Regions from separate parts of the Homo sapiens genome. Here region 2 is linked to region 1. A link means that fine-mapping ties the variant in region 1 to the expression of a gene that starts in the linked region. Tissue or cell type: whole blood. Region 1 holds a variant in brackets; the other region holds the start of a gene. All regions are shown on one strand. Distances are between the middles of the regions. Region 1 overlaps TMEM131 (transmembrane protein 131). Region 2 holds the start of ZAP70 (zeta chain of T cell receptor associated protein kinase 70).

Region 1 (10,626 bases):
CAGTCCTGGTAAGATTATTTACATCAGGGGACTCATTCAACAATTCACATCAGGGCTTTTTTTTTTTCAGGGAGCTGGTATACTAGCACACCACTGCCCAATGTGCAAAATGGAATGGTCTGTTTGGAGTGGTTAATCTTCTAAAGAATTGTTTGCCTTATACAAGTATTGACTTAGCTATCCTTTACCTGATGAGTTCCTCATTTATAGTGTAATTGTTTTTGTAAGAATTCCATCCTCTCAACTTTACCCACATCTTTTTACATGAGCAACCTACACAAAGGTTTCATTATTTTTCTCACTACCTTGACCTTGTTTCTCCAGTTTGGCCTGCAGTAAATCAAGACAGTAGGCACAGTCAACCAAAATAGAAATCCTCACCCTACAGACACTTGACCTGAAATAGGGGGCAACAGAGACCAGAAAAGGGAGCAGCTGACAGCAGGGATTTGAGATCAAGAGAGGTCCTGGCTTTAGGACTGATTGGTCCGCACTCACCACTGTGTTGGAGTGTACCAGAGGGCAAGTCAGGAAGACCAGAGATGCAGTCAGGTTTGAGCAACAGTCGGGTCATTGAAGGTGAAAGGAGTTGGACGAAGGGCAGGCTCACTGGGCTGAATGAGGGCAGAGAGCCTTGGAGGCTCGGGTAGGGCGTCCACGCTCTCGCCGGAATGTGTAGATACATCCTGGAAAGAGATGCTCTCTGAGATACATCCTGTAGCCCTATTTGCCATGAGACTTTCTGGCACCTTTTAGTACTACTTTTTGCCAGGGGTGGGATACAATCCTAAATCCTTCACTCAGCAAATCTTGAAGAAGACCGTGGGTGGTCCGTGTGTCCAGGTGGGATGCTTCTGCTTCCTAGCGCCCCCTGAGGTTTCTGCTGGCCATTGGCTCTTGGCTTAACACTCCACGATTTAGGCAGTTCCCCATTAAACAGATGCCACTTTCAGCAACAGAACACAGCCCCTGGAGCCAGTTTCACAGGGGTGTTCTGAGGCCCAGTGAGGTGACATGAGCCGTGTTGGTGACGTAATGACACAAGCATGCAGAACCATGCTGCCGGGAGAGCAGGTGACAGCCAGACACAGCCACAAACTGGCTGGCAGCATCCCCACCTGGTGGCACCTGAGCCACATGTTGACATCACTCCTTCTGTGTGGAGGGGAAAGGATGACAGGACCCAACCCCAGACAGGAGATTTTGGTGCCACTCCTCGGGGCAGGAATGTGGGAAATGGCAGGCCAGCCCTCTGGAGGAGGAACTGTGAAGGGCCCAGTGCCGCATGCCTCAGTTTCCTGCCTGGCTCTTCCACAGAGGCCAGCTGGTGCATCTGAGCATGGCGCCTCAGGGCAGAGCTCCACGGTGGGCACTGGGGGAAGAGATGCAGAGCTTGTCTCCTCAGCCCACGTCTGTGCAGTCCTTTTGTGTTTTTCTAGCCAAGCAGTCCCTTACACTGGTTCCAAGCCCTGTGACCTCTCTGCCCTCACTGCCAGCGTTACTAAAATGTTCCAGCAGAGCTCCACTCGATAGAGAATATGGGTGGAGGAAACCCAGAAGAGTCGGTCCCACATGCTCTCCATCACTTTTACCTTCCTGCTCTGCCCCAGCTTTCTCATCCCCTTTTATCCCTTCGCCTCCCTTGGTGTTTCGTCTTGCTTAGACCTGAAGTTCTGCGAGCGCTGTTGGCAGTGCCAAGCTTAGTGCAGTTCCTTGGGGTGAAAGCGTTGGTCCCACCCAAGACTGTGCAGCCAGCATGTGGCAGTAGCCGCTGGGGGAGTTGTGCAGCCTCTGTGTAAAGATCTCTCCATCCCAAGTAGCACCCCTTAGCATGGTGCCCTATACCATCTGTACCACATGAGTTGCAGAGAAAATGCTCCTTGAATAATTTCATGATTTAAAAAGGCAAAAAATACAAAGGGTTATTAAAAGGAAAAGCAAATCAGAAGCCACAAAGGAAAATTTTAATAATATTTGAATCAAAACGTTCTCTAATTGCAGCTCGTGTACTGTTCAGAGTCTCCCCTTCACTCCTACCTCAAGCACTGTTCAGTAGGGGCTTTTGCTAACTTCCCTTTGCTTTTCCTGTTTCATTTCATCATCACTGTCTTGGGAGCATCTGTAGTTCTGGGCCCTGTGAAACACATTCCACCCACAGGAGCTGCCCGCACCTTTCCCCAGGACAGGCACCTCGGGAGGATCGAGCGCACACAAAACGGAGCACAGCCTGCTCCAAGTGTGGGCACTGCCTGAGGGGACGAGTCACTGCAGGGGCGGAGCGAGGCCAGAGGAAGTGGCTAGGGAAGGGTCAGGACAGTTGTACAAATAGCAAGCCGACAGTGTAGACGTGGTGTCAGATGGGAGGCCTCAGAGGAGCTTGATGGGGACAAAGATTCGAGCAGGGCTCGTATGGGAGAGCGGTGTGAGACACGTCCTGAGTGTGGGCATCAGGTCAGCAGATCCACAGAACCAGCGAGGAGGGGCCCATGTCATCAAGGGGTGAGAGTGGGCGGGTGGGAGACAGGACCGTGAGTCTGGCACCAGTACCAGCAGCACTGGGGAAGGTGAGAGAGAAGGTAGCAGGCAGCCCTGAGGATGGCGGAGTGGAGAGCACGGGCTTCCAAGGGAAGGCTGCTTTGCTCGGCAGGGCCATGCTGGAGGCTTGACCTAGCCAAGACATGGGAAACCTTGAGCCCTGAGCCCTGGGGGTAGGGGAGAAGCAGCTTGTGCTACAGGGTGTGACCAGGGAAGCAAGAGGCAGCAGGCAGAGCGGCTGCAATGTGGCAGTGAGGGGACGGGAGAAGTGGAGCCGGGGGTACTCAGGGTACGCGGAAATCTCACAAGGCAGGAGGGGCCAGCCAGGTAGCGAGCTGGCCAGGCCTGGGCTGGGGATCGTGCCCTGTGGTGATGGGAATTCACAGGTCCAAGCTCTCCCCCACCTTCTTCCTCTTGCAGTAGCTACAGCAGCACCAAGTTGCACACAATAGATGTGCAAAATGATACATTTTTCTGATAAAAGGTATACATATTTCCGTTTACTGAGTAGAGAATGTTATTTTATGACTGAAATTTTTTGTTTTAATTTCAGAGATGGGGTCAGGCTGGAGTGCAATGGTGTGATTATAGCTCACTGCAGCCTCAAACTCCTGGCTCAAGCCTCCCACCTCAGCCTCCCAAAGTGCTGAGGTTACAGGTCCGAGCCACTGTGCCCAGCCTGTTTTAGATTTTTAAAACAGCTGTATAGACATTACTTTAAAGGGCACAGGAATATACTAGGAGCTTAATAGGGATCAGAGCTGCACATCCCAGTCACGCCAATGGAGAGGCTTTACTGAACTTGGGGATTCAGCCCGGAACACTGCACCTCCCACAGCTGTAAACCTGCGTGTAGGCACAAGGATTTTCCAGGTCCCCAGGCAGCGGCCTCAGCTGTCCACCCCTGGAGGATGTGGAAGACCCTCCTCCCCTACCTGAGGTGGGAGAAGTGAAGACATTGACTGTCCGCCACACAACACAGCAGGGACCGGGCACGCTCTTGCTCCCCTCAAATCCCCGAGTGCAGAGAGATGTGGCTGCTTTCTCTTTAAAACCTGTTAAACAGAACACATCTAAGAGCTTTCGTTTGTTTTCTTTGTAGAAGGGCTTGAGTTATGCATAGTCTTAGAGAACATTCAAAGTGATTTGGAAGAGCGCTAATCAAAACACCACACTAACGAGCCCGTTTGTTTTTAATTTCCAGCTACTGATAGTCTTTATAAACTTTCTCTGCAAACCCTCAACGCAGACATTTTCTTAAAACAACGCCAGACCTCACCGACACCTGCTTCCCCGTCTCCCCCAGCTGCCCCCTGCCCCTTTGTGGCCCGGGGCAGCTACAGCAGCATCGTCAACAGCAGCTCCAGCAGGTAGGCCTGCTGCTTCCTTTCCGGTTCTCAGCTTGAAATGTGCCTAAAACCCGATGTCACACCCTTTAAATGGAAACACTTAGCGGCCACAGGCCACTGTCTGGTGTTACTTCTGATGGCTGCCAGCTTGTGTGGACCCTTTTACCTGGGGTCCACCCCCGCTTCCTGCTGCTGTGCCCAGCTCCAACAGTAACCCGGTTCCCATTCTAATCCATTCATTCTTACCACCTGTGGACCGAGAAATGCACCATTTAACTCACTAGAGTGATATTCTCAGTGAGCCAATGAACATTTACTAAGCCTTACATGAAGACCTAAAGGGGATTCCTGTGAGTTGGGAGTATGGGTTTATGTGACACTAATTTTGGCCTTTGGACAATTTGGCTTAGGACTTAGAAGGGCAGGACCTGGTCCAAGACCGTTGTGCTGGGTGAGGTGCTGCAGTAGGGGATGTGTGCACCCGGGAGGGCAGCCTCCTGACCACACAGACAGGATGCAGGAAGCATGCTGTTCTCCGAGGCACGGAGCCTCACTCGTGTCCGCCTGCCACAGTGTACCGCAAGCCTGACAGTCACGGATGGCACTCTCACCGTGTGCCTCGCCGTGGCGTGGGTTTCTGTGCATCGCGTCACCGGCCAGCCTAGGGTCAGGTCCTCCCCGCCGTTGCCCAAGAGGCAGTAACCACTGAGGCTGGGGGAGCCACCCCGCTTCTGGGCCTTGCCACAGGAGCACCTCGCCGTGTCCTGGCAGGGAAGGAGACTCCCTGAGGCCCCGCCCTTTCCGGTGTCGGTGGCTGCCCTCTGCATTTCCTGCCGAGTGGCTCTCTAGCATTCTTCACAAAAGTGTGATCGAAGCCTCTGCCAGTCCCTAAATTGTGATCCCTGCCCTGGTCTCTTTCATAGTGATCTTTTGTTTTCTTACCTTTCTCCAGAAAGCCCTCTATCTCTGTCTGATTAAGCAGTCTGAGGCCCCAGAGCATGTGACATGAGGCTGAGCGATGCTCTGTGAGCTGCCCCGCTGCAGAGAAGCCCACTCAGGGCTCAGTCCTGCCAGCCCCACACCTCCCCGAGACAGGGCACTGCTGATGAGGAATGAGTTCTCTCTTTGCTTCTTTTTCAAGTGACCCTAAAATAAAACAGCCAAATGGAAGCAAACACAAGTTGACAAAGGCAGCCTCGCTCCCGGGCAAGAACGGCAACCCCACTTTTGCTGCAGTCACGGCTGGCTACGACAAGAGCCCAGGTCAGTGCCTTTGCTTCAGAGACCTGCCACGCCAGGCGCCAGGCCTGGTGGAATGACCTCTGTCCTAATGTGCCTTCCATTGATTGAACGTCCATTGTTACAGGTGGGAATGGCTTTGCTAAAGTTTCTTCAAACAAAACAGGTTTCTCCAGCAGCCTTGGCATTTCACACGCTCCTGTTGACAGCGATGGCTCAGACAGGTACGGTAGACCACCACTAACCGCTAGAAAGACGGAAGGCTTCTCAAGTCGGGTTAGCACCTTTTTATCCATAAATGGGTTTCAGGGCATTTTTCCCCTAATTTACAAGGAGGCATTTGTCAGAAGTGGTCAAGTGCCTCTAAGAAATCATGTCTGCTGGGTGGAAGCAGAAAGCCGGCTGCGGTGCCTTCCCCAGGGGGTCCAGATAGAGAAAGGGGGCACCCATGCCTGTCTCAGCCAGGCAGACACACGTTACACCTGTTCTCACTCTCCTCCATCTCCTGGTCTGTGGTAAGATGTGATCTGATCATTAAAAATAGAAGAGCGAAAGTGACTTGGGAGGGGGGAAATCTGGAGCAAATACTAGCCAATTTATAGTAAATCACTGGCCACGCCTCTTTCTTGAGCAGGCTTGTTTATCATGCAGGGGGTGTGGTGGCCTGCAGCAGTCACCTTGGTTGACTTTTCCAGATAAGCAACAATAGAGCCCCAATTTACCTACTTTGCACTAATAGGAAATGAGTTCTAGATTTGAAATAGTTTTTAAATAAATCTTCCAGTACCAAAAAGCAAACAGAAGGAAAAAA[T/AT]GTCTGTTTCTCTGCAAAACACTTGCTTTGAACCTGGCTGTGAGCTAGTGATAGGGCATCCGGAGCTCTGGGGCTCCCTCCGACTCAACCCTTGTGGTAAGCAGCCATTGTTCAGCTCTTCCTTTTGTCTGTTTTTAATATTTGAGTACCCCCAGTTGAAGCAGTGTCTCCTGTTTGTGAAGCTGTGCACTATGGATCCGTTTGCACTAACCACCATACATTTTTGTGTGTTGCGTTTTCCTCTTGTAACATTTAGCTCGGGTTTGTGGAGTCCCGTCAGCAACCCAAGCAGCCCTGACTTCACTCCCCTCAATTCGTTCTCCGCCTTTGGAAACTCTTTTAATCTAACTGGTGGTGAGTGTTTAACACTAGATGTGTAACTAATAAGCCTGTGGACAGAGGAAGGGAGAGGAGGTGTGGTTTTGTGTGCTGGAGAACACAGCACAGCAGCACTGTGGAAGAGGCCCCGCAGGAAGCTCCCTGGGAAGGGTCCCCTCCCCTCTTCCTCCCTCATCCACACCAGCAGCCCAGAGGGGCAGTGGACCAGGCTCGACACGGTGTGCGCACACCAGTTGGTGTGAGTTCCATGGCGGGTATTGAAGGGCTTCACAGAAGGGTTCTGGTCTGAAATGGGACCCCTGAGTGTGCCAGGGGTCCTCTTCTTGCTGTCCAGAACTAGAGGTCACCATGGAAGCTTCCCATTAGCTATCATGTGAGAGTGGGGAAAGTTTGCATTTGGATGTCATTGGTGGCATATCAGCTCGTGCACTATGCGTTTGAGTTCTGGAGGACACTCCTGCCCCTACTTCCTCTGGGCTGTGGTGGGCTGGTGAAGTGGGTGTGGTGGCTCCAGGAGCAGTGGTTGGAGGTATGCCATTGAGTGAAGCCCCATATGCTATAGTGATCATGGCAAAACCAAATATGGACTTGATGACTGTTGCTTTATTTCCAGAAGTTTTCAGCAAACTCGGATTATCTCGATCGTGCAATCAGGCCTCACAGAGGAGCTGGAACGAGTTTAATAGTGGCCCTTCATACCTTTGGGAGTCGCCAGCGACAGATCCCAGTCCTTCCTGGCCAGCCAGTTCCGGCTCCCCGACCCACACAGCCACAGTGAGTACTTGGGGCTGGGGCTGGGGCCTGGACCTGGCCCACCCACTCGCCATCTGCCATTGCTGTGACATGGATGGCACTGACATAGTTATAAACAACAAACAGCAGCATCAGAGGGGTGGGTTAGTACTTTTATTGTCTCCATTGCTTTGTCTTCATATTCTGTCAAAATGACTGATCGATGTTCTTCAGAGCCATTACAATCAGGAAGTTTTAGGAAGAACAACTGAACAGCTATGGGGTTGGTCTCTGGAGTCCCTCCTAATAGCTCAAGGGCATTTTCTGCCTCTTCCCAACCTGTAAATGGACCACAAGGGTGACCATAGGCCTATGGCAGGTTCAGATGGTTGAGGGAAGCCTTCGGCATCTGTGCAATGCAGCCACTGGCCACCCAGGAGCAAGCTAGATACTGCATTTACTTTGTTGCTGAGAAGCACCTGTCTCTTAGGTTAGATTTTCAAGAGTGCATTTGTTTGCTTCTTGGCTAAAGTCTTCTGCAAAGACCATGCTGAAAAGAGTATTCTTGCCAAGGAAAATAATTAGTGGTTTTGGCTTCCACAAAATTATGACAGAAAAATATGACCCCACTGTGTTTGCCTCTTTGTTCTCAGAGAAACTAAACATGCAAGGTTTTATAACAGATATTTCAACTTTACAGATTCCAAAGGTTGTCTTCATGTGTAATTATTCAGCCTTATGTTTTAAAACCACCTTAACCATTCTTTAAAAGAGAAGTCAGCAAACTTTTTTTTTTTTTTTTTGAGACAGAGTCTTGCTCTGTAGCCCAGGCTGGAGTGCAGTGGCACAATCTCGGCTCACTGCAAGCTCCGCCTCCTGGGTTCATGCCATTCTCCTGCCTCAGCCTCCTGAGTAGCTGGGACTAGAGGCGCCCACCACCACACCCGGCTAATTTTTTGTATTTTTAGTAGAGACGGGGTTTCACCATGTTAGCCAGGATGATCTCGATCTCCTGACCTCGTGATCCGCCCACGTCGGCCTCCCAAAGTGGGAGTCAGCAAACTTTCTATAAAGAGTCAGATAGTAACTATTTGAGGCTCTGAAGGCCATGCTTCACCACTGCCATTGCAGTGCACAGGCCGATGGGCGCAGCTGTGTTCCAATACAACTCTCTTTACAAAAGTAGGCAGAGCTGGATTTGGTCCACAAGCTGTCTTTTTTAAAATATCACAACTAGCCGGCATGATGGCTAGTGCCTGTAATCCCAGCACTTTGGGAGGCTGAGGTGGGAAGATCACTTGAGCCCAGGAGTTTGAGGCTGCAGTGAGGCATGATCACACCACTGCACTCCAGCCTGAGTGATGGAGCAAGACCCTGTCTCAAAAAAATCAGAAACATCTGCTCAAATACATATATATAACATTTGTTCTAAAGTAAACAAAGTAAGAGGAATGCGTGCCCCAGCCTCATCTTTTCTGTAGCCTTACCCCCTTACCCACTTGACCCTCTGCCTGCCGGGCTCAGTGCTGGACGCTTTCTGTTTTGTCGCAGTCGGTCCTCGGTAACACCAGCGGCCTGTGGTCCACCACTCCATTCAGCAGCTCCATTTGGTCCAGCAACCTTAGCAGCGCCCTTCCCTTCACCACTCCAGCAAACACGCTGGCAAGCATCGGCCTCATGGGCACAGAAAACTCCCCTGCTCCTCACGCTCCCTCCACCTCCAGTCCAGCTGACGACTTGGGACAGACCTACAACCCGTGGCGGATATGGAGCCCCACGATTGGAAGAAGAAGCTCGGACCCTTGGTCTAATTCGCACTTTCCTCACGAGAATTAAATTAAGCAAAAAACAAACAAACATAGTGGGCCCTCGTCTAGATCATGATGTGCCAGTTTCTGAGACATCTTTTTAAGGCTCTTACTGCAGCTCCCCTCCCCACCCTCCTCTTCTTTGCAAAACAGACCCAAGCAGGGCAGGCTCAGACCACTCGCTTCTTTCAGATCTTTCTTGCAATTATGATAACATGAGATTTGCTGTTGTGCTTTTAGAGAAAAGTCTGGACTCAGCCACAAACTCTAATAAGACCTGTACATCTGAGAACCTTTCCCGTTACTGCGTTTTCACCACCTGTCTTCCCCATGCTTTATTTATCTGTATGAACACAGATTTGACATTACAGCTAAGGAAATAATTTGAGTTGATTCAGAAATCCTGGCATGTGACAATTTTGTTAAATTACCAAGTTTGGTTTTTAATAATTTCTCAATATTATGCGCCAAGATCTAATTTTAAAACTGTATGAGGACTTTGTGCTGAAAATAGAGTATTTTTTTAAAGTAAGGCTGTCTTGGTTTAAAAGCAGATTACAGAAATGTAAGTCAACTTAAGAACGGTGAATGAATGTAAAAACATTCAGTTGAGACCATATGCATTTTCTGTGCTGTTTGTACTTGAGGTATGTAACATTTGTATACCTGAACTTATTTTAAAGATGAACTGAAATGCACATAGCCAAGTCTTGAGATACAAGATTGAATGTGTATTTCTTAAAAATACAACTTTGTGTTGTACTTTGAAATAAATGATGCTTTTTTCAAAAGCCTTGTTTTGTGGTTTTTTTTACACACAAGGTGTATTTATTAGGATTTTCTCACACCAAAGTAAACCACCTTATCCTTGCCTTACTCTGTGGAGCTGACAGGTTAAGACGGGGTTTGCCTTCTCATTGCTGGAACTTCCTGCAGTCTAATGGAGTTCTGTGTGTTCCCATGGCAATCATGGAGGGTCCTTGATCGAAAACAACTTGAAAGCCTGTTTGGATTCATCCAGTAAGCGTTTTCCCTCTGCCACTATCCTAAAAGGCCTCATAAAAAGCAGTAATTGCTACCATTTATTGAATACTGACTCTGTCAGGTACCTGGCTAACACTTTGGGATATGTTGGGTTACTCCATTATACTTGAGGAACCTGGCTGGGCAGTGCTGGCTCAGAGGCCCCAGGTCAGGCTGACCGCAGATTCACATGGCACCCACTGTGCTGCCTTCCTTCTGGTCACAGTCACCATTCTCAGGAACAGTCTGTGTCCAACTCACCACTGCATGTTCTAACACTGGCCAACCTTTACCAGCCTTCAGTCTGAGGAAGTTGTATGGTGAGAGGAAGACAGAAAAGGAGAGAAGCGGGGCACAGAGGGAAGACAGCAGGGGCACAGAGGGAAGACAGCAGGGACTCGGGCAGCCTGGGGGAGGGCTCTGGGGGCCACCTGTGGGAGCTTACCAGCAGCAACACAGCATGCAGTGCCCCTTTGGCCCTTTCATTTCTAAATGATGGCTTGGAGACAAGGGGGGATGCCTTGGGCTATGGCACAGGGGCTGGGGGTACTAGAAACAGCTATTTACCCACTGGTATTAAAATGCTTTAGCAGTTTACCTGCTAATACAGCTATACCCCAAAGCCAGGCTGGATGGAAAGCAACCTGTGTGCTACTGAGGAATGGAGCCACAGGTGGCAGTCACACAGGGTGCCATGTAGAAATACCAGCTGGGGCTGCTGGAAACGGAGCCTTGGTGCAGACTGGAAATGACTTAGCCAAGCCTGTAAGGTGCAGTAGTAAAGACTACA
Region 2 (10,626 bases), 48 kb after region 1:
TGTCTGCTGTCAGTGAGCTGCACCGATCTAGAGCTCCCCGGGGTGACCCCAGACCCCAGGCAGGGGATCAAATGTTTCTGTTCTCAGCTGTGTCCCTGCAGACTCGTGGCCCTCCCAGAAGACACACCCACCATGAGACCCACCCCAGCCCTCGACCTGCCTGGGCCATCCCGACGGACAGGACTTGGGTTAGGAGCCGCGTCCCTCAGTCCCCAGTGAGCCTGTTCATTCCCCAAGCCTGGCCTATGGTTCTCCCTAGGCTGACCCCAGTCAGCTTCCTCTTGAGCTCACAGTTCAGAGATCCTAGTTTGGCCTTCCCAGAACTTACAGCCCCTGGATCACAGCACAGAGATCACAGCAGAGCAGCCACGGGGCACCTGCCCCACACTCACAGCCCAGGCCCTGGGAGGATGATGGGAGGAAGCCTTGGAGCCTGGTCAGAAGGACCTGCCTGGAATCCCACCATTCACCCAGCCTCCCTGGGTAAAGGCAGTGCTAGATTACAGCTGTTCCAGAGAGATCAGATTCCCCAAACATGCTTCAAAGGAAAAAAGAGTCAAGGGGTCAAATACAGTTTCAAATGCTGTGAAAAGCACATTAAAGGCTCCGAGAAGACCACATGGAAGGACCTCTTTCAGCGTCACTTAATTCCCACACCTATTCAGCAAAGCCTTGAAGGTCTACTGTTTCACAGAACATTCCCTGGGCATCAGAAGCCCCCATTACATGCCCATCGTCAGAGCAGAGGTATCACACCAAAGCCACTGGACCTGGTGGGAGCGGGCAGGAGCAGCACAAGCTCCACATGTCCCCCCAGCCAGAGGCTCCACGTGTCCCCCCAGCCAGAGGCTCAGAGGCTCCTCGTGTCCCCCCAGCCAGAGGCTCCACATGTCACCCCAGCCAGAGGCTCAGAGGCTCCGCATGTCCCCCCAGCCAGAGGCTCCGCATGTCTCCCCAGCCAGAGGCTCCGCATGTCCCCCCAGCCAGAGGCTTGACATGTCCCCATCCAAGGCTCTGCAGGAGCAGGGCCCCAGCCCCTCACCGCCCCACCTCCTCCTACTGCCCCCCCACCACCCTGTTCCCACTCCAGCTCCTGGCTCTCTCTCTCTGAACCCCTAGTCCTCACCTGAGACCCTAAGTCCCTCTGAAGCCATGTTCCCTGCTCCTTAATCCCCCAGCTGTGCTCGGGCCGCCTGTGCCCACCAACAGAGGCAGCATAGGCACTGGTCGTCAGCACACGCCAGCTTGGTGACGCCATGAGCCACACAGCCGCAGTTAGCCATGGCTGCAGGCTCCTCCTTCATATGTCTTTCCTGACTGCAGGGATTGGATTCAAATCATGGAATCGTGGACCCACCACATGGTCACAGTGCAGCCTCAGCAGCGAGTGAAGCTCGCCAGACCTCCTCCGGAAAGCAGGGCCAGTGAAGGTGTCCAGCACTGGGGCTGCAGGGACTCCCTGGGGTGAGACTTGCTGGCCCCCGTCATGCCATCACATCCTCTTCTCTGCTTGAAGCCCTCTAGGCTCCCACCTCACTCGGGGTGAAAATGCAAGTCCTCAGGGTGGCCCCCAAGGCCCTTCATGATGCCCATCACCACCCCCCGCCACTCACTCCCCTCCAGCCACACGGGCCTCCTCATGTTATTCGTTCAGGTCCCTCGGACAAACCAGGCATGGTGCAGCCTCAGGGCCTTTGTACTGTCTGTTCCCTCTGCCTGGAGACTCTTCCTCCAACACCTTCCACTTTATTCAGGTCTCTGCCTAAGTCACCTCCTCCAGGAGGCCTTCCCTGACCTCCCTCTCCAAAATAGCCTCTCCTTCTCTCTCTAGCCCTGACCCAGCTTTGTTGTTCTTCACCACCTAAAAGATGATATTGTATCTATTGGTGACATAGTACCTTTGTCCCTGCCAGAATGTAAGCACCACGGGAGTGGAGCCTTTGTCTTGTTCTCCTACCTATACCAGCATGGCACAGAGGAGGTGCTCAATATACCAGGTACCTACAAAGGTCTGCAGTCCACTGGGATGGGTGGGGATGCCTCTGAGCACCGGTGGAACCTGACACCTGGGAAGGGGTGAGGGGCCACAGGGGCTTCCTTGGGTGGAGGATGGCGGGAGAGGAGGGGCCCATCCTGAGGATCCTGGCCACAGGCTATTCCCTCAGCCCAGAACTGCGCTGCATCCTTCTACTGGGCCTCCGGCTTCAGGCCTCCTCCGTTGTCCCATCCTCCCAGAAGCATTCCATGAGCCCTGCCCCCTCCCCAGCCTGGGTCAGGCACCTCCCCTAGGCTTCCAGGGTCCCCATCCTCCCACATCACAGCCCTGATGGCCTCTGTCTCTGCTCCTCAGTCCCTCACCAGGCTGAGCTCCCCGAGGCAGGGCCCACGGCTCTGTCTTGTTTTCTATGGAAGCTCCTGCTTCCTCCCCACAAATATTTGTCAAGTGTGTAAGGACAATCACAACAGCCTCTGTGCTGGGGACTGCACTACCCTTTGCGAGCATTAGCCATTTATTCTAATTCTCACCACAACTACATTTGGTGGGAACTGTTATCCCACTCCTCAGCTAAAGAAACTGAGGCTCGGAGAGGTCAATGTCACTCTCAGAACATGCAGCCTGCAAGGGGCCACCAGGATTTGAACTCAGGTCTGTCCAATGCAGCAGCCAGCACTAACCACTCCAGCAAATGTCTATTAGGAGACCCTGGAGAGCTGGGCTGGTGCGGGGTCAGGGTCAGATTCCCCAACCCAGCACACTCTCCAAGTGTCTGTTGATTGAACAATGCCCTTCCACCGCCCCTCCAGTGAGGCCCCCAACTCCGGCCTCCACTGCCTGTGTGACCTCAGCAAGCAGCGGTCCCTCTCTGGGCCTCAGGCTCTGTGACTGTAAAAGGGAGATGGGAAAAGGCGGTGTGAGTCAGGAGGATAGGGGCTGATAGAGACAATGGAACAGGGTGGGACTGTCCTGGGCCTTGTAGGCTGTTCACAGGATTCCTGTCCTGGACATGCTGGATGCCAGTAACACCCGCTGGGTCACAACCCAAACTGTCTCCAGGCACTATCAACTGTCCCAGGGAGACGGGAGGAGGTAAAATTGGCTCTGATGAGAATGGCTGCCTTAACCCTGTACCTTGGGGTGGGGCAGGGAGTGGTCAGCACGGGGTGGTCTGGGTGCTGCAGCCCCGGAGAGCATACAGGAACTGTGGAGTCCAGAGCCCGAGGCCACCCAGAGCTAGTGAGGATAATGAGGGTTTTAGTGAGACCTTTCTGCAGCACCTGTATGTGCCGGGCAGTGTGGATACAGTCACTCTCTTTATCCTCCCGAGAGCCCTGGGAGGGAAGCACAGAGAGATGCGGTGACTGGTCCAGTCACACAGCTGGTGAGTGGCAGAGCCAGAATGTGAAGCCAGGCCCCCAGGCTCCAGAGTGTGCACATCAACACCACCCCCGCAACACTGCCAGGGCAGTGGGGCTGAGGATGGAGGGCAGGTGTGAAGAGGAAAAGGAAGCTCTGGATTCAGCAGGAGGCAGCTTCACAGGTGGCACCTTAGGAGTCCCTGACCCTGATCTCTCAGCAAGGCATTATTAAACACCTCCTGTCTGCCTACTGTTCCAACCAAGACGAGAGTAATGAATCATCTCGAGCTGCTCACCTCATGAACTCCTGTTCCTTCCTGTCGGGGATGCTTCCTACCTGGGACACATTTCCCAGCCTCTCGCCAACAGTCAGGAACCAGGCGCCTGCCAGGTGCCCATATCTGCATGTGCATTTAACAGATGCACAAACTGAGGTCAGAGAGGCCAAGCAACTTGCCGAGAACACACAGCAGTTGAGGAGAACTCGGTGTTTTGCTCTTTCTCTCTCCAGGTCTTCCTCTAACCTGAGCTCGCCTACAAGTGGCTCAAGCCTGCCCTGGACTCCTCACAGGAATCACAGCATTCTGCTGATGGAGCTCACGGCCCTGGTGAGCAGCCCCCTCATCTTCACAGAGTGCACATGCGCTTTCTCTGGAGGTTTCTCTGCCTCCGAGAGCCAAGGATGCAGCCAAACAGGGCCCAGCAGGAGCCCAGGGACTGAGCAGGCCTCACCGTGTCCCCTGAACAGCCCCGCTCGGCCAAGCCTCTGGAGGGGGAGCTGCTTCCCTCAGCGTGGCCACAAGCCCCGTCTGCCTCCATCTCCAGCCAGTCACCACCCAGCCCAGTCCTCCAGCTCTCCTGGTCCTCCCAGCAACCTCCTGACTCCCAGTTAATATTCTGTCTTCCTCCTCCAGACACAGCCCACCATGGAGACGGTGGCCAGGTGCCACTCCACCCAGGCACCACTTACCTGGGGACGTACAGGTGGATGTCCAGGCAAACAGGCCACTTGCGGGGTCTCTGGTCCCAATGCCAATGGAGAGCCGGTTCTGGGTGAGGAATCGGGGCTTACAAAGCCGGTTTGGATTTCCCTGCAGCCCAAGCCCCCAGCCTGAGAGGGAGGCCCTGCCGCTCACACTCTCCGCACACACCCCGGGGGAGGATGTCACACCCCGCCAGGGTTTCTCACTCATGGATGGGGGGGGTTCATCCTCTGCCAGGTCTCCCAGAGCCCCCTGGGGTGGCCCTGGTGGCAGGACACAGGCAGAAGGCCCGAGGACAGCCGCTTACCTGAATGCCCCAGCAGCAGCTCTGAGGCCCACGGTGGGCCAGGCCTGCCCGGAAGGCCTGGTGTCTGCTGAGCTCCGGCAAGCAGGCTTGTCTGAAACTAACCTATTTCCTGGATGCGAAGACAGGAAAGGGGGCTGTGTTTGATGTTTACATCAAAGTCACAAAGTGCTGTGCTCAAGGAAAATCACAGGCCACGTGCTCCAGGGAGGCAGAGGGCATTTCCGGGGCCCAGCACTGCCTGCCCAGCTGCAGGATGGGACTGAGAGATGGGAATGAGGCTAAGCAAAGGCAGGGTTTCAGGAAGGACGACTCCAGCAGCAGGAACCGTCAGAAGGGAGGAAGCCTGCATACCTGGAACCGGAGGGTAGGCAGCAGTGGTGGGAAGGAGGGGAGTCCCAGGGCTCATGGAAACTGGAATGCCCCCATTTTCCCCTCAAAGGGGCGTCGCCCTGGGGCCTGCACCAGCTAGACAACCCAGAGGAGTGATTTGTTTATTCCACAGGCAGGTTAGAGCTGGAGGGAGGAGAAACCCACTGAGTCAGCCCATACCCCGAAGGTGAGAACCCCTTCTGTGCCAGGCATCTGGATGGCAAGGACAGCCTGCCCTTGCTCTCCAGTGGCTCGCAGGCTTGTTGGGGGCAGCTGAGTCCACAGGGAGCCAGGGCTGGGAGGCCGGAAGCCTGGGCACTGTGTGTCCCCAGAGTATCCCCAAGCCAGCCTGGAGGATGTCAGGGATGCGTTCCAGGAGGAGTCAGCCACCCAACCGAGACACAGAGCCAGGGCATCCCCAGTGCTAGCCCGGCCCACCTGGGACCTTTCCCACGAAGCTGAACCTGGCTGAGTGCCATCCCGCTGTGGCCACCACCTCCTCCTCCTCTTCCTCTCCTCCCTTCCCTCACCCTGTGCACCCCCTACCCTTGGGCCTGGGGCCACACCTCATGCACTCTCTCAGAGAGGGGCCTGCAGAGCCACTCCCTCGGCTCCATCTCCCCTCTAGTGCCCCAAGGCCTCTGGGAGCCCCTTGCCCACCACCTCCTTGCTTTCTTGGGCACTAAGGGAGTCGTCACAGCTCTCCTGTCTGTGGGGCCTCAGAGACCTGTGTGGAACTGCCCTGGGCCCACTGTGGAGACTCCTAAAGCTTTTCTTCTTGGGGTCCTGCTGCCCTTGTTAAGTGGGCTTGTGATACCCTACCTTGTTTTAACCTGAATTGACTCTCCCTTAGCTAAGAGAGCCAGACAGACTCCATCTTGGCTCTTTCATTTGCAGCCCCTTACCCACCCCGCTTCCTCAAGGACTTAATTTGTGCAAGCTGACTCCCAGCACATCCAAGAATGCAATTAACTGATAAGATACTGTGGCAAGCTATATCCGCAGTTCCCAGGAATTCGCCCGGTTAATAGCACCCAGAGCCCCGGCGTTTGTGTCCGGTTGATAACGCCCAAAGCCCCGTGTCTATCACCTTGTGATAGATTTTAAGCCCCTGCACCTGGAACTGTTTGCTTTCCCGTAACCATTTATCCTTTTAACTTTTTGCCTGCTTTACTTCTGTAAGATTGTTTTAGACCCCCACCTGTCCTTTCTAAACCAAAGTATAAAAGAAAATCAAGCCCCTTCTTTGGGGCTGAGAGAATTTTGAGCACTAGCTGTCTCTCAGTCGCCAGCTAATAAAGGACCCCTGAATTCGTCTCAAAGTGCGGCGTTTCTCTGTAACTCGCTCGGTTACAACAGGCTCAGCTCCCCAGTCTGCCTGAGGATCCCCTCACACCCTACCCCGAAGCCTCCTTGGGGACCTCCTTTCTGGCCCTCTACTATCCTCTGGCCGCCTGAATCCCCTTTAGAAAATCTGAGTTCCGGCTCTAGGCTACTTTTCTCCTTCATACAGCCCCCTCCAAAATGGTGTTTGCTAGCAGCCTCCCTTTTCCCCAGCGGCATCTTGAAACTCCAGGTGCAGCAAGCATCCCTTCACATCCATGCTGGACGCTCATTTCTTGGAGTATTGAGAGAAAAAGACACCGGCACCCTGAAGAGAGGAGAAATTACAGCATCAAATCACATTCATACTACAATAATGAGAGTCGCACTGATTATGTGCCAGACATTGCTGTACGCACATCACAATTAATAAGCCATTCAACCTATTTTCCAGATAAGGTAAGTAAAGCCCAGAGAGGTTAAGAGATGCCAAGTGGCCAGGTGGGATTGCAGCCCAGGCAGCCTGACCCCACCCACGTGCTGCTGGACATAAAAGAAGAAAACTTTGGTTGTAAAATATCTCCCCGAAGGAGGCCAGCGCCCCAGGGAGCTGGAAGCTGAGCCAGCTATGGGACAGGGTGCCTCTGTGTGGGTGGGGGGCTTCCAGTTTCCAGGGTCTTCAGGTCCTGAGAAGGGGATTCCCAGCCTCTGCAAGGCACTGGCCCTACAACCCTTGAGCCCCCCACTTCCTGTCCCAGAGGCTGGTCTGGAAACTACAAAGCCCAGTGCTCAGACAGCTCTGAGATTGGGCTACAGATAATCCGAGATTGGCATGCAGATAAGGTCCTCTGTTCTGCCAGAGTGGAAGGAGGTGGATGCATCTTTTGAATGTTTACAGTAAAGGGCAAACGGATGGAAATGTGGGCTAGGAAAGTTGCGGTGCCTTTGCCTCATCGGGTTGGGGTAAACATTCACTCTACTCATGCCAAGAGCCTCGAAGAAATTCATCAGTCACCCCCATATCCTCAGGTCTTTGCCCACACCTCTTCACCTGCCTATTTCCTAGTCCTCTTTCAGGTCTCCAATTAAGCGTGTTTTCCTCCAGGAAGGCTTCCCAATCCTCAGACCGGGCAGGGATGGGCTTTCTGTCCATTTCACCTGGAGCTGAGCAGGTCCAATCTGGCTGCACAGTTAAGAGAACACAAGCCACTGCTGGGAGACGTGCAGCAGGGAGATAGGGTGGAGGCTCCAGCAGGCCCGAGAGGAGATACACCCCAGTGCAATGAGCCCCAAAGGAAACAGGTCCATCCAGGGCCCCTCCTGGATTCCCTCTGGGTGTACAGAAAAATGGTGACTTTTTTTTTTTTTTTTTTTGAGACGGAGTCTCGCTCTTTCACACAGGCCGGACTGCAGTGGCGCTATCTCGGCTCACTGCAAGCTCCGCCTCCCGGGTTCACGCCGTTCTCCTCCCTCAGCCTCCCAAGCAGCTGGGACCACAGGCGCCCGCCACCGCGCCCGGCTAATTTTTTGTATTTTTAGTAGAGACGGAGTTTCACCGTTAGCCAGGATGGTCTCGATCTCCTGACCTCGTGATCCACCCGTCTCGGCCTCCCAAAGTGCTGGGATTACAGGCGTGAGCCACCGCGCCAGGCCAAAAATGGTGACTTGTATCTCCTTTCCTTCTGGTTCTTTTCTGGTTCTGCCACTTAACCCTGAGGGACCGTGAGCACGTTACTTAGCCTCTCTGCGCCTTGGTTTCCTCCCTTAGGAAACGGGGATAATGGTACCTGTCTTGTAGGCTGTTGTGAAAGTTAAAAGAGGCCTAAAGGCAAATGCTCCATTACTGCTACCACCACCGTCATCTCTCATGTCTAGTGACTGCGCGTCCGAGTGCAGCAACGGGATTCCCTTGCGCCCTCCAGGGGCAGCTCTCCAGTATTGCAGGCTGCCAAGCACAACTCAGGCGTCCCTGAAGGCTGAAAGTGACCACCGCCCTGCCCTGAAATAAAAAAAATTAATCCAGCTGGTTTAAGTCAGAAAAGAATTGCTTGACCACAGCAGCCACATGCTGTGCTCTCCCCTGGGGGCTTCTCAAGTGGATGGCTCCTTCGGAAGCCTTCAAACTGCCATGGCACTGCCACCTCCTGAGACCCCTGGCTACTTATTTATTCAATACTGAACACCCGTTCTATGCCAGACTCTTTTCCGGGTACTCTGTTCTATGGATCCGCAGTGAACAGCACATGAAAATCTCTTCCCTCATGGAGCTGACATTCTAGTGGGAGAGACAGAGAATGAACAAAATAGATAAATATTTCATAGAGTATGTCACATGGTTACAGGTGCTAAGGAGTAAAATAAATCAGAAAGGGTAGGCGAGGTCTTGAGCATGTAATTTTGAGCCAGTCAGGGCATGCCTCGGAGGGGATAACCTGTGAATCAAGACTTGAAGGTGGCTCACGCCTGTAATCCCAGCACTTTGGGAGGCTGAGGCAGGCAGATCACAAGGTCAGGAGATCGAGACCATCCTGGCTAACGGTGAAACTCCGTCTCTACTAAAAATACAAAAAATTAGCCGGGCGTGGTGGCGGGCGCCTGTAGTCCCAGCTACTCGGGAGGCTGAGGCAGGAGAATGGCGTGAACCCAGGAGACGGAGCCTGCAGTGAGCTGAAATTGCGCCACTGCACTCCAGCCTGGGTGACAGAGTGAGACTCCGTCTCACAAAAAAAAAAAAAAAAAAAAAAAAAAAAAAAAAAAGACTTGAAGGAGATGTAGGAGAGAGCCACGGAGATACGGAGATATTGGGGGAAGAGCATTCCCAGCAAAGGTCTTAAGCAGGACTGTGTCATCTGTGAGGTAGGAACTATCTTGTTCCCAGCTGCGACCCCAGCAACTGGAGTGGTACCTAGCACAATAGTACTCAATAAATATTGCATGGATGGGTGAAAAAATCCCACATATGCGCTTCAGGAACAGCTTGCTCTGGGCTCAACTGATGACCCCAAGGTTGTTGGCTTCATTCTCAGACAAGGTTTCTCCCTATGGTCCAAGAAAGTCACTCAGCTTCAAATCCTATTCAAGGAGCAAGAATCTATTTCTCGATATTACCGGAAAAACCCCCAGCACAGCTCATTGGCTGAGTAGATCACCTGTCCATCCCCCAGCCAATCCCTGACGCCAGCGGATGGCATGGGGACGTGGCTTAGGACCAGGTCACATGCCCCACCCACAGCACACTCTGGAAGGAAGGAGTGGCTGGAAGGAGGAGAAGGGATGCTGGGTGGGCAAAGCGCTGAAGTCTTGCAGAATATTCATAACAGCTTAAATGCATCTATTTCTTTCTATCAAGCACGACTGCGTGCTGGCCCCAGCTAAGGTACATTTAACGCTCACAACAGCCCCAGCGAGTAGTAGATTAGCCTCATTTTACAGATCTAGAAACTGAGACCAAGAGGAAACTTAGGCTTGAAATTCCACAGCTAGCAAGTGGGGAGCCTGGGACCTCCTGGCTCAAAGGGAGCTTGGAGCTTCCACAGGGCTCCACCCTGAAATCCCCTGTGCTATCAGGGTGACTGCCGTCATCCAGCTAGGGACAAGCAGGCTGAACCAACCCTGAGCTAAAGCTGCAAGGCCTTAGCGTGAAGGCAAACTGACAGCGCAAAGGCAGCCACCTCTTTGATGAAGAAAGGGAAATGGAAATGCTAGTTCAGGGCAGCTCCCAGGGGCCCACAGGCCATGCGGGGACTGTTGGCAGAGGCTATAGGCGCTGATAGGGCTTGTTCCTCAAATGCAAGCCCAGGGTAGAGGTAGGAGGCCAGCAGAGGGGTGGGCTGCCTCTCAGGGCTGGGGTCCCAAGAAGTTGCCATGAGGATGGGACAAGGGTGCATGTGCAACCTGTTGAGAATTCAAGGAAAATCTGGTATGCTTGCTGTGCCTGCTGTATGCCCAGGCTGGGGCAGCTGCATCTCCTTCCAAGCGCAGAGGACCCCAGCCACCTGCTGCCCTACAGCCACCCCACATCCAGCCCAGCACAGGGCCTGGCACCCGGCAGGTGTCCAATAAATGTTTGCTGCTGAACGGACCACCCAATGGCTCTGTAAAGAGGGTAAATTATCAGCCTCATTGCCAAGAAGAGGAAGCCAAAGCTCTGAGAAGGTCCAGGCAGGACAAGTATTGAAGCCCAGCTGGACCCAGCTCCCCAGCACCATGCCTGGGAAACTCCCAGCGTTGTGAGGGCCGGGCAGGCGAATGTCAGGTGGCACAGGCCACACCCCAGTTGCTGGCATT

The links. PIP is the estimated chance that this variant, and not a neighbour inherited with it, causes the effect.
Region 2: it holds the start of ZAP70, and the variant in region 1 is fine-mapped to the expression of ZAP70 in whole blood (TOPMed, PIP above 0.99).

Annotation. Positions count from the first base shown.
Region 1 is chr2:97,755,314-97,765,939 of GRCh38, reverse strand. It overlaps TMEM131 (transmembrane protein 131), which reads left to right. Exons shown (of 41, transcript NM_015348.2): 36 at 3,740-3,905; 37 at 5,026-5,147; 38 at 5,251-5,347; 39 at 6,191-6,288; 40 at 6,887-7,047; 41 at 8,557-9,604. The coding sequence ends at 8,841. It also overlaps a transcript of ZAP70 not described here. Among named protein-coding and RNA genes, the nearest start is that of ZAP70, 47 kb to the right of the region's middle. RefSeq lists enhancers at 1,719-2,500, 4,436-4,655. The variant T/AT (reference allele first, on the strand shown) is at 5,935.
Region 2 is chr2:97,707,696-97,718,321 of GRCh38, reverse strand. ZAP70 (zeta chain of T cell receptor associated protein kinase 70) reads right to left here and starts at 4,746. Exons shown (of 14, transcript NM_001079.4): 1 at 4,648-4,746; 2 at 4,328-4,406. RefSeq lists enhancers at 1,703-2,217, 2,218-2,733, 3,965-4,938, 10,026-10,584, 10,585-10,626 and a silencer at 6,912-7,101.